Regions from separate parts of the Homo sapiens genome. Here region 1 is linked to region 2. The links come from fine-mapping of genetic effects on gene expression. A gene starts in region 2. The other region holds a variant in brackets. All regions are shown on one strand. Distances are from middle to middle. Region 1 overlaps PLEKHG4 (pleckstrin homology and RhoGEF domain containing G4). Region 2 holds the start of MATCAP1 (microtubule associated tyrosine carboxypeptidase 1).

The links. PIP is the estimated chance that this variant, and not a neighbour inherited with it, causes the effect.
Region 1: its variant is the best candidate, but not a certain one, in a credible set for the expression of MATCAP1 in sun-exposed skin (GTEx, PIP 0.75).

The regions. Positions count from the first base shown.
Region 1 is chr16:67,287,980-67,293,343 of GRCh38, reverse strand. It overlaps PLEKHG4 (pleckstrin homology and RhoGEF domain containing G4), which reads right to left. Exons shown (of 22, transcript NM_001129729.3): 19 at 5,330-5,364; 20 at 4,944-5,177; 21 at 4,740-4,855; 22 at 3,864-4,541. The coding sequence ends at 4,536. It overlaps KCTD19 (potassium channel tetramerization domain containing 19), which reads left to right. Exons shown (of 16, transcript NM_001100915.3): 13 at 1,507-1,698; 14 at 1,881-2,035; 15 at 2,358-2,459; 16 at 3,662-3,912. The coding sequence ends at 3,775. Among named protein-coding and RNA genes, the nearest start is that of PLEKHG4, 11 kb to the right of the region's middle. The variant G/A (reference allele first, on the strand shown) is at 3,112.
Region 2 is chr16:67,180,648-67,186,011 of GRCh38, reverse strand. MATCAP1 (microtubule associated tyrosine carboxypeptidase 1) reads left to right here and starts at 2,049. Exons shown (of 7, transcript NM_001040715.2): 1 at 2,049-2,750; 2 at 5,346-5,364. It overlaps EXOC3L1 (exocyst complex component 3 like 1), which reads left to right. Exons shown (of 14, transcript NM_178516.4): 10 at 522-651; 11 at 754-876; 12 at 955-1,110; 13 at 1,202-1,326; 14 at 1,408-1,633. The coding sequence ends at 1,618. RefSeq lists an enhancer at 531-630.

The DNA.
Region 1 (5,364 bases), 110 kb before region 2:
GGGATGAGTGCTGTGGGAAGGAGGTGCCTATGAAGCAGGAGCACAAAAGAGGCTGAGGGCTGGGGAGTCAGCAGGGGAAGGAAGGAGAAGTCCAGGATGTTTGGAAGCGCAGGGCATGGGTCTAGCTGGAGGCCAGGCTTCACATGCAGACGTGATAAAAGATGAGGCTGAAGACAGAAGTCATAAGGACAGGCCTCGTGGGCCAGCTTCAGGACGTGGTACTCCATTCTGACCAGGATGGGAGTGAGCAGCGTCTGAAGGATTTTAGACAAGAGCACGGGGTCAGGTGTGCCCATCAGAAAGTTTGCTCCAGGAGCAGAGGAAATGCAGCAGGAGCTAGGTATTCGAAGCCACTTGGAGTTCTTTCTAGGCTAGGGGAAGCAGGCTAGGCAGGTAGTGGAGGGAAGGAGGGATGGGCCAAGGAGAAGCCAGGTTTCTAGCCTGTGGGACTGCAAGGGGGTGGATAGGCCCTTACTGAGGTGTGGGTAAGAGAAAGAGCAGAGCTTGGGGAAGGGCACATACTGAGTGTGAAATGCCGAGGGACATCCAGGTGGAGAAGCCCAGGAGACAGCAGGGGCTACAGGGACTGAACTGGAGAGAGAGCTTGTGTAGCCAGCTAAGGGAAGGTGGCCAGGGAACTGTGCTGAAAATCGCTGTGCCAGGATGCTGCCTCTGCTCCCTCAAAGCCCTGCCTGCAGTATTGTCACCTTCCCTATTAGTGGCTCCAGCCCTGCTTGGAGGGGCCTTCTTGGACTCTTGCCTGTGAGCCCTAAGTTGGTCTGTCAAGGTTGGGATGACAAATGTCCACTCTTTGGACATGCATCAAAGGCTGGCCCCAAAAGTTCTCAACTTAAAATTTTATAAAGATTTCCAGCCCTCAGCCCCATTTGATACGTCTTAGTTCAACAGAGGAATCTGGAGTTTCTTCGAGTTCCAAAATGTTCAGGATTTGGCTTGCAGTGATGCCAGGGCAATGAAGAGAGGAGTGGCCAGGACAGGCCCCTGCCAGCCCAGGGTGTCACTTCTGAGAAACTAGAGGTGGCAGCTGTTGCAAGGCTGGGGTGACTTGATTGTACTGGCCTGTCACCAGAGGTCCCCTTCCTGCTTGGGCTCTGAGGTGGCTTAAGGAGAGTCCCTGCTTATGAAGATTTGATGGTAATTGAAGAAAAGAATTTTAAAAGCCTGTGCGTGTGGCTCACGCCTGTAATCCCAGCACTTTGGGAGGCTGAGGCGGGTGGATCACCTAAGGTCAGGAGTTCGAGACCAGCCTGGTGAAACCCCATCTCTACCAAAAATACAAAAATTAGCCGGGCGTGGTGGCAGGTGCCTGTAATCCCAGCTACTCAGGAGGCTGAGGCAGGAGAATCGCTGGAACCTGGGAGGCAGAGGTTGCAGTGAGCCAAGATTGTGCCATTGCACTCCAGCCTGGGCAACAAAAGCAAAACTCTATCTTGAAAAAAAATTTTTTTTTAAAAGGAGAGCCCCCTCCCTATGTTGTTTTCACAGAAAGCCCTGCCCCTGAGCAGCCTCTGCCCGAGGCCAGTGAGGTGGACAGCCTAGGGGTTATCCTCAAAGTGACTCACCCCCCCGTGGTGGGCAGCGATGGCTTCTGCATGTTCTTTGAGGACAGCATCATCTATACCACGGAGATGGACAACCTCAGGCACACAACACCCACAGCCAGTCCCCAGCCCCAAGGTGAGGCTCTGGAGCCAGGCCGAGCCCTGCGCCTCCTCGTGAGGATGCCTGAGCCCCCTCCCAGGGTACTTCAGGCAGAGACAGTGGCCCCTGGGGGCCCTACCCCTCTCCCCCTCCTCACACTGTCTCTAAGGCCCTAGCTATTGACAGATGTGGCCACATCCACTTTCCCTCCTCCACAGAAGTGACTTTCCTGAGTTTCTCTCTGTCCTGGGAAGAGATGTTTTATGCACAGAAATGTCACTGCTTCCTGGCTGACATCATCATGGATTCCATCAGGCAAAAGGACCCCAAAGCCATCACAGCCAAGGTGGTCTCCCTGGCCAATCGGCTGTGGGTATGTGTGACAGGCCTCAGGCCCTGGGGCACCCTGTACCTTCTCCACCTCTTCCCCTGCCCCACAATAAGTGGTGCAAGGCAAGAGGAAGTAAGCCAAGATGGGGTTAAGGAGAAGGCCAGGGCCAGAAGAGTGGTGGGACAGGGAGGCAAGCAGAGCAGTTGCACCTGGACTGAGCCTCGGCCAAGAGGCAGATTTGCAGTGACAGTGCCCGCCCCCTACCCCTGTGGCTCTGTGGGCCCAGAGAAGTCCCCGCTCTGCATCTCACTCTGAGGGGCTAGGAGCTGCCCTAGCACTGCCTGACTGTGGGCTCTCCTGGCAGACCCTGCACATCAGCCCCAAGCAGTTTGTGGTAGATTTGCTGGCCATCACCGGCTTCAAGGATGACCGGCACACCCAGGAGCGCCTGTACAGCTGGGTGGAGGTGAGGGCCACTTGCAATCCCTGGGAATCCACCGACCCTGTGGATGCCTCAGATGGACGTGTGTCTTGCTGCACCAGGGCTGGGCCAGCACTGCCCAGAAGGCTAGACAGGCAGCTTAGGCCACTGCTCCCAGGGAGGGAGAAACTGCATGAAATTAACCAATCCAGAGTAGTCCAAAAGCAGTATTCAGGCCACTGGTTTTTACAGTTTTCCTCCAATGATACCAGCTGTGCCTTCATCACTAACAACCCTGGCCACACTTAGGGACACATATCATATGAGCCCAAGCTTTGACTCATATGGGAGTGAGGCCTTTTCAACCAGTGATACCAGCTTCACCTATCTGGCCACGATGTCACCAATTGTGTACATTCCTTTCATTTCTAAACTACTTTTAAGCATTCTTAGGCCGGGCGCGGTGGCTCACGCCTGTAATCCCAGCACTTTGGGAGGCCGAGGCGGGTGGATCATGAGGTCAGGAGATCGAGACCATCCTGGCTAACACAGTGAAACCCCGTCTCTACTGAAAACACAAAAAAATTAGCCAGGCGTGGTGGTGGGCGCCTGTAGTCCCAGCTACTCAGGAGGCTGAGGCAGGAGAATGGCGTAAACCCGGGAGGCGGAGCTTGTAGTGAGCCGAGATCGTGCCACT[G/A]CACTCCAGCCTGGGTGACAGAGCGAGACTCCGTCTCAAAAAAAAAAAAAAAAAAAAAAAAAAAAGAAAATATTCAGTAAGGGCAAAGGAATGATCAAGGGTTTTTTTCTTTTTCCTTTTCTGATTCCTTAATCTAATTTTAACATTGAGGCCGAAACGATTTAGGCAGTTTCTCATTGATCTGACACTTCTATAATCAAGAGCATTATTATAACACCTTTCACCACAAGCCCTCTAGTACCCAGTTACCATTAGGCATCTGGCTCATATGTGGTTTGTAAAGGTGAAGTCAGCATGTATGGCTAAAAAGCAGAAAACCAGTAGCAGGAAACAGATTTTTGAACCTCCGGTCTTTCTGCTTTGTTCCCTGATAGCCATTTCTAGCCCCACCCTGTGAGATGCCCTGGGGCAGAGCTGGGCCCTAGAGCATCAAAAGTCCCCAACAGCCGGGCTTGCCCTGTCCCTGCCCCAATGGGAGAACCCCACCCACATGGAGCTAGAGTAGACAACTGGCCAGGAAATCAGGGATAAGACTGGCCTTTCCTTCCAGCTTACACTGCCCTTCGCCAGGAAATATGGCCGATGCATGGACCTGCTCATCCAGAGGGGCCTGTCTAGGTCTGTCTCTTACTCCATCCTGGGAAAGTACCTACAAGAGGACTAGGGTGCCCAGAGATGCAGCCCCTCATGCCCCACCCGCCAAGTCTCATTTTAATTGGAGATAGCCCAGAATGCATGTGCCCATCAGAGGGTACATATCAGTCTATTTTTTATTATAAACAAATAAAAGATTAAATCACACATCAAAGACCTAGACTCCTTCTCTGAGACACCAAAGGCCTAACAACCAGTAAGATAATTTTAGACAATTCTATTGAAAGTTATTCAAAAGGCATCAAGTCAAAATAACGAAACTGCCCCAGTAAAAAGGGGCTGGGCCTGGGGGCCAGGAAAGGCAAGCATGAGGGCCCAGTAGAGGTGGACCTGTCCCTATGGTAACTGAGCTCGGCTTTAAGGCCAGGCATTGGGGATCAGCTGCTAGGAGCCCACCTGTGTTCTTCCTGAGGGGTGGGGGCACCCTAGTCACTGCCTAGAGGCACATGGTCCCCCACCAGCCTACAGCATGGAAACACCCAATGTCTGCTCTAGCCTATTCTTAACCCACAACTGGGATGGGAGCTGGGGACAGGAGAAGGGGTCATGGGGCCAGGAGCCTATTCAGGCTCTACAACCAGACTTCCCTAGAGAGGCCCCGTGCCAGTTAGTCCAATGGCCACACACATCAGAAAGGGTAGTCAACAGCGTTGCACATGTAGGTTGGAGGTAGCCCAGGTGTCAGCCACACCCTGGTCACAGCAGATCCAGAGAGGCAATGTTCCTTGGAGCTGCAGGCTGCTGGATCTACTGCTCGTCCAGTCCCGGGCTCAGACCTGCAGGGCCAGGCCAGGCATGAATGCCTGCTTCCCTGACTCTGGACCCAGGAGGTGTCTGGGGAATGGCTCTGGCCCACCCACCCCAAGCTCTACCCAAAGTAAAGGCCTAGCCTGGGCTGGGGAGGGGCTGGTCACAGTCACAGGCTCAGCTTGGGCTGGGGAAGGGCTGGTGGGTATAGGGCAAATGGCACTCACACAGGGTAAGTCCTCCAGGCCCCTACCCAGGGCCTGCCCTGACACACAGCTGCTGTCAGAGCCACTGGAGCCACTGGCTGATGGGCATTGGGACGAGATCTCTGAGTCCTCAGCAGCTAGGGAGGGAGACTGGGTGAACTGTCAGCACGGGAAGCCCCAGACCCCAAGCCATGCCCTCCTGCCTCTGGCTAGGCCCAGACATACTCAAAGAGGGCTGGCCGCCCAGCTCTGCCTCAGCCTCCAGTGCTGCTTCCTCTGGGAAGCTGGGATACAGGGGACAGCGGAGACCCAGAAGAGCTGGGTCTCTGTACAGGTGCAGGTTGAGGGACCCCAGAACAGAGCAAGAGGCAGGGTCTCCAGGAAGGGAGTTCGAGGCCCCCAGGTAGAGGCTGTCATGGTCAAACGGGGCTACGGCAATGGACGCCCGAGAGCGAACTTCTGCATAAGAGAGAGGGTCAGGTTGGGACAGGCCAGAGCCTAGCCTGGCCCCAGATCCCAAGGAAAGTGCGGGCCAGCACTAATGGAGGGCCACAGTGCTTCCCGCACAGCTTTCCTACTCCCACCCCCACACCCTGTAGCCTGCCTGCTACCTCGGCACTTCAGGACATAGTTGACGGTGCGGTCG
Region 2 (5,364 bases):
CTGAGAATCACATGAGATAACATGTAAAGTGGCCACCATAGTGCCTGGCACATGGTGTCAATTGTTCATTCGTCCAGCAAATATTTCAAGGCCCTACTCTGTGCCAGTAATGTCTGGGGTTACAGCTGTGTGTATACACGCACACACACACACACTCCCTTCCTCTTGGGTGGTATGTTCTTTTTGGTGGGGGCAAGGAAAACAAGTGATGATTTTTTACTCCCTCCTCACTGGGATACTTCCCTTCCTTTACGAATGAGGAAACAGAAACCGAAAGAATGTTTTCCTCAAGGACGCACCGCGAATTTGAGGCAGGTCTCGCTGGGCTGTGTCCTTTGCAGCTCGCCAAGCGCCCGTCTCCCAGCCCTGGTCCATGCCTGGGACCAGAAGTGCAGAGAGCCGCTGTTCTCGCTCCCTCCCGTCAAACACTTGCCCCACAAGGTGGCGCCGGAGGGTCTGGACCACCGAGGGCCATGCGGGCCTTGGCCTTGGTCCTGAAGCCGTAGTTTTGCTTGGTCCAGCTCCTCAGTGTCTGTCCTGCAGCTGGACGGGGCGCCTTCAGGGGCCTTGGCTCCAGTGGAAGCTGCGCTGGACGAGTTGCAGAGGAGGATCTACCGCTTGGTGTTGGAGGCGCTGCAGGCGGAGCTCCAGGTGAGGCCTCCTTCAGGTCAGGATGGGAGCAGGTGGAGAGGTGGCGGTACAGCTACGTATGGGGGTCTCCGCGGCAATGCCAGATCTGGATCATTTCCCCAGCCCCTGTTCGCGGATCTGCCCTCGCGCCAATGGCTGTCGAGCCCTGAGCTCCTGCAAAGTGTGTGTGAACGGACGGGGCGCTTCTGCCGGGACTTCTGGCGCGTGCGGAACCCCACGGTTCAGGTGGGTTGGGGGAAAAGATTGGGGAAGGGGCGGCGCGGGTGAGAGGCGACCTGCACCCGCCTGATTGCCTCCCCGCAGCTGCTGCTGGCTGAGGCCGAGCGTGCCGTGGTGCTCCAGTACCTGAGCGCGCTGATGCAAGGCCGCCTGGTGTGCCGCGGAGCCGACGAGAGGACCCAGGCGGCCGAGCGCCTGCGGCACGATGCTGCCCAGCTTCAGCAGCTTTTCCTCAGTTTGGTGAGAGCTTCTTGGGCGGGCAGACGGGCGAGAGTCTCAGTGGCTGGGTGGGAGAGAGGGCTGGCGCGAGACCCTACCCCGACGTGCTCAGGGCCTGGAGGAGAACGCGCACTGCGCGCCGGTGCTGCTCGCCCTGAGGGAGCTGCTAAACCTCCGCGACCCCGCGCTGCTGGGCCTGGAGGTGGCTGGCCTGCGGCAACAATTTCCCGACGTGAGGTGCGGACTGGGGGCCAGAAGGGAAGAGAAGCCGGAGGGCGGGGAGGACGGGGCTGACGCGCCTCCTTGGTGCCCCTGCAGCGAGGACCACGTCTCCGCCCTCTTGGGCCTGCGCGGGGACTTGTCCCGGGAGCAGCACCTGGCCGCGCTCAGCTCCCTGCAGGCTGCGCTGCCGCCGTCGCCCCGCGCGAGCCGCCGCGTCCTCTTCAGCCTAGTGCCCGCGCCCGCGCTCGCGCCGGCCTCCTGCCTGCCCTCGGGGTCCTGCGCCCGAGCCCTGCTGCTCGCAGAATAAACCACGGCTGCCGGACGCCTGAGTCTGTGTGTGTTGGGGAAGGTGGGATGGAATAAAAGTGCCCACGAGGGTTGAGGGAATTCTTGCAGAGTGACACGCTTAAAGTATCCTGGCTCCCGTCCTGGTACACGGGCTGCGCCCCGCCTATGCAGGCATCTGCCCTCTGTGCAGACTGCGTTCCCGAGGCCGCGGGCTACGCCCCCACGTCTCCGCGCCCAGGCCGTGAGCAAGAGTCTCCGCCGCCCTGGCCGCCTGGAGCCCCTGAAGCCCAGCAACTCGCTGTGGCCTTGGGAAGGGGGCGGGCCCAGGACCACGAACACCGCCCCCTCAACCCTGCCTGGCTTCGCTCCCAGTGGCCTCGGGGGCGCGCCGCCGCGGAGACTGACGCGAAGCCCCACGCTTTCGTAAGAGCGTGCGCGCGCCCGAGGACGTACGTCATCGGCGACGGCTCCCGCCGGCTGGGCGTCCGGTGGCCGGTGTAGCAGAGCGGGAGCGGCGGGCGGCGAGCAGAGGAGCTAACAGGTGGGGGCACGGCACGCGGACGGACCCCCCCAAAGGCCGGGAGGAGGCGCGCGACGCGACCTTTCCTGATCTCCCGGAGAAGCCTCCACTCCATTGTCTCCTGGCCCCACCCTCCATTGGGCACGCCCTTCACCTTATCCCCCACCACTTATTGGCTGCAGGTCACGCCCCTCCTCTATTTCTGGTTCCCCATTGGCTCTTCACCTTGTCCTCTCCGGGGCTTCTCTCCGCACAGGCCACACCCTCTCATTTGTCACTAGACCCCGCCTTAATAGTGGGGGGCTCCTCCCCCATCCATCCTTCATTCATTATGCACCCAGTGCTGGGTGCTTGGTACACGGGGGTGAATCAGACCCCATTCCTGCCTTCGGGGAGTTCAGGGGATTGTGGGAGGACACGGACCTAGACTCCAACAGTGACAGCTCTGAGTAAAGAAGTCGCCGAAGCAGTGGGACACTAGACGCGGGGAAGGCTTCCTGGAGGAAGTGAGGCCTAAACTGAGCCTTGAAGAATGGTTAAGAGTTTGCTCCAGGAATATATTGCAAAGGCATTCTTGGCGGAAGGACCCGAGACGTGAAAAAAACAGGCGTATTCTGGTAATTTCGAGGAGGTATGTCGAATGAAAGAAGGGGAGATGGAGGGGACTGGGCCAAGCAGAAACCTGTAAAGGGGTGAGGAGTCCAAAAAACTGTACAGTTAGTTAAAGGGAGTGAAGCCTGGGACCTGAAGTCTTTTCAAGCAGCTGGTCATTAGGCAGGGTAGAGAGGAGTGGAGAGGGGGAAGATGAAGTCTAGATAGGGAAGCAAAGTGCAGGGAAGGAATAATTCTAGTTCTGAAAGAAGAGCTCTTGGATTCATTTATTTATTGAGCAATTGCTGCGGGCCAGGCACTGTTCTGGGTTCTGGGGACACAGCTGTGAATGTTGGAAAAGATAAAACAGATAACTATCAAATATACCTATCATACAAATATAAACTGTACTGAAGTACACTCCAGATGGTGATGACTGCTACAAAGAACAATAATTTGGGGAAGGGGAGATAGTGGAGAGGGGAGAGGAGGTTTACTATTTTATTGAGGGTGTGTTAGGCTTTTCTAATAACATGGTATTGATGCAGAGATTTGAGGAAAGTGAGAGAGTGACCCATGCCATTATACAGGGGGAGGAACATCCCAGACAGAGGACATATTCTGTTTGATATGCCTATTAAACATTCAAGTGATGACACTGCAGTGAAGATGGACATGATGGCATGTGCCTGTGGTTCCAGCTAGTTGGAAGGCTGAGGTGGGAAGATTGCTTGAGGCCAGGAATTCAAGACCAGCCTGGGCAAATAGACAGTATCTCAAATTGCACTGAAATTGGCAACACTGGTCTAAAGTTTATGGAAGAAGTCTGAGCTAATGTATGTAAAACCACAAGAGTGGATGAGAACATCTAGGGAGTGAACGTAAATGGAGAAGTTTCCATAGGCAAGTCCTGGAGCATTACAGTATTAAGAGGTCAGGGAGACAGGGATGACCAGCAAGGTAGGAGGAGAACTAAGTTCGACTGTGTTTGGAAAACCAAGTGGACAGCATGTTTCCAGGAGGCAGTGACTTTTTTTTTTTTTTTTTTTTTTGAGATGGAGTTTCGCTGTTGTTGCCCAGGCTGGAGTGCCATGGCACAATCTTGGCTCACCGCAAACTCCGCCTCCCGGGTTCAAGCGATTCTCCTACCTCAGCCTCCCGAGTAGCTGGGGTTACAGGCATGTGCCACCACGCCCAGCTAATTTTGTATTTTAGTAGAGACGGGGTTTCTCCATGTTGGTCAGGCTGGTCTCGAACTCCCGACCTCAGGTGATCCGCCCGCCTCGGCCTCCCAAAGTGCTGGGATTACAGGCGTGAGCCACCCTGCCTGGCCTCCAGGAGGTAGTGATTAACTGTATCGGGTGCTGATCAATATGAAGGTCATTGCTGGTCATTGGTGACCTTGATCAGATCAATTTGGATGGAGTGCTGGGAACAAAAGGCTAATTGGAGTGAATTTAAGAGAGAACAGGAAAAAAGGAACTGGAGACTGGGTATAGATGACTCGAGGTATGTGCTGCAATAGGAGCAAGTGGAGGGAGATGCAGCGGGGCTGTAGCTGGAGGAGTGTGGGTTCTAGTGAGGGTTTTGTTTTGTTTTTTAAGATGGAGAAGTAACAGCATGTGTTTATCCTGATGGAAAGAGTCCAGTAGAGAGGAAGAGATTGATGATGTAGGAGAGAGGAGAAATGCTGGAAGTGAGTCACTGAGCAGGCAAGGGAGCTCAGCAGCTGGAGCCTCTCCAGGTAGTCTCTGGGGAGGGTTGGGATTGGACTGAGTCCTGGAACAGAGTCGGGGTGAGCGCCCTGACACTGGCTTTGGATGACCACTGGAAAGATCCCTCAGATAGGGGACAAGCCAGAGATTGGCTTGGATTTGCTGAAGCTTCCTTCTGCTTCCCAAAAGCAGATTCTAATTTGGATTTCAACAGATGGCTCAGAGGAGAGAGGGCATTCTGGGGGGTACCGGCGTAAGCATGGGGCCCTCAAACATTGAAACTGACTGAGGCCAAATAGGCAGGAGGATATGGGTAAAGCCAGGTGGATGGGCAGGGGTGGCACTGAGAAGATGCCATAGGCTGAAGGCAGTCCCTGAGGTCTTCTCACCTACCTAATCTGCCCAGGCAGCTGAAGCTGCACTGTACCACCTCCCAGATTAAGTGAGTGAGCACAGAGATTAGAATCACGAGTAAGGGGCTCAGTCCTTGCCTTCAGGAGCTCAGGCTGAGAGGATTCCAGTAACCACCACCTAGGTGGGTGTTTAAAACTCTTGCTTTCGGCTGGGTGCGATGGCTCATGCATTTAATTCCAGCACTTTGGGAGGCTGAGGCGGGAGGATCACTTCAGGCCAGGAGTTGGAGGCTGCAATGAGCTATGATCATTGCACTGCACTCCACCTTGGGCAACAGAGTGAGACCCTGTCTCAAAAAACAAAAACGAAAACAAAAGTGCTTTCTTCCGGCCCAGCATATTTGGGTGAGTCTGCTGGAGGCAATGGACGCTGCAGCCAATCAGACCCCTGGTAGCAGAGCCTGGGCCCACCAAGGGCCCAGCAGAGGCAATGTGGAGTACAGGGCCTGCTGGTCGTTTGGTCACACCCACTCATGCTGGTCTCCACATGCCCTTCTGTGTCCCCAGAGGTCGACAGTGTGGGGAG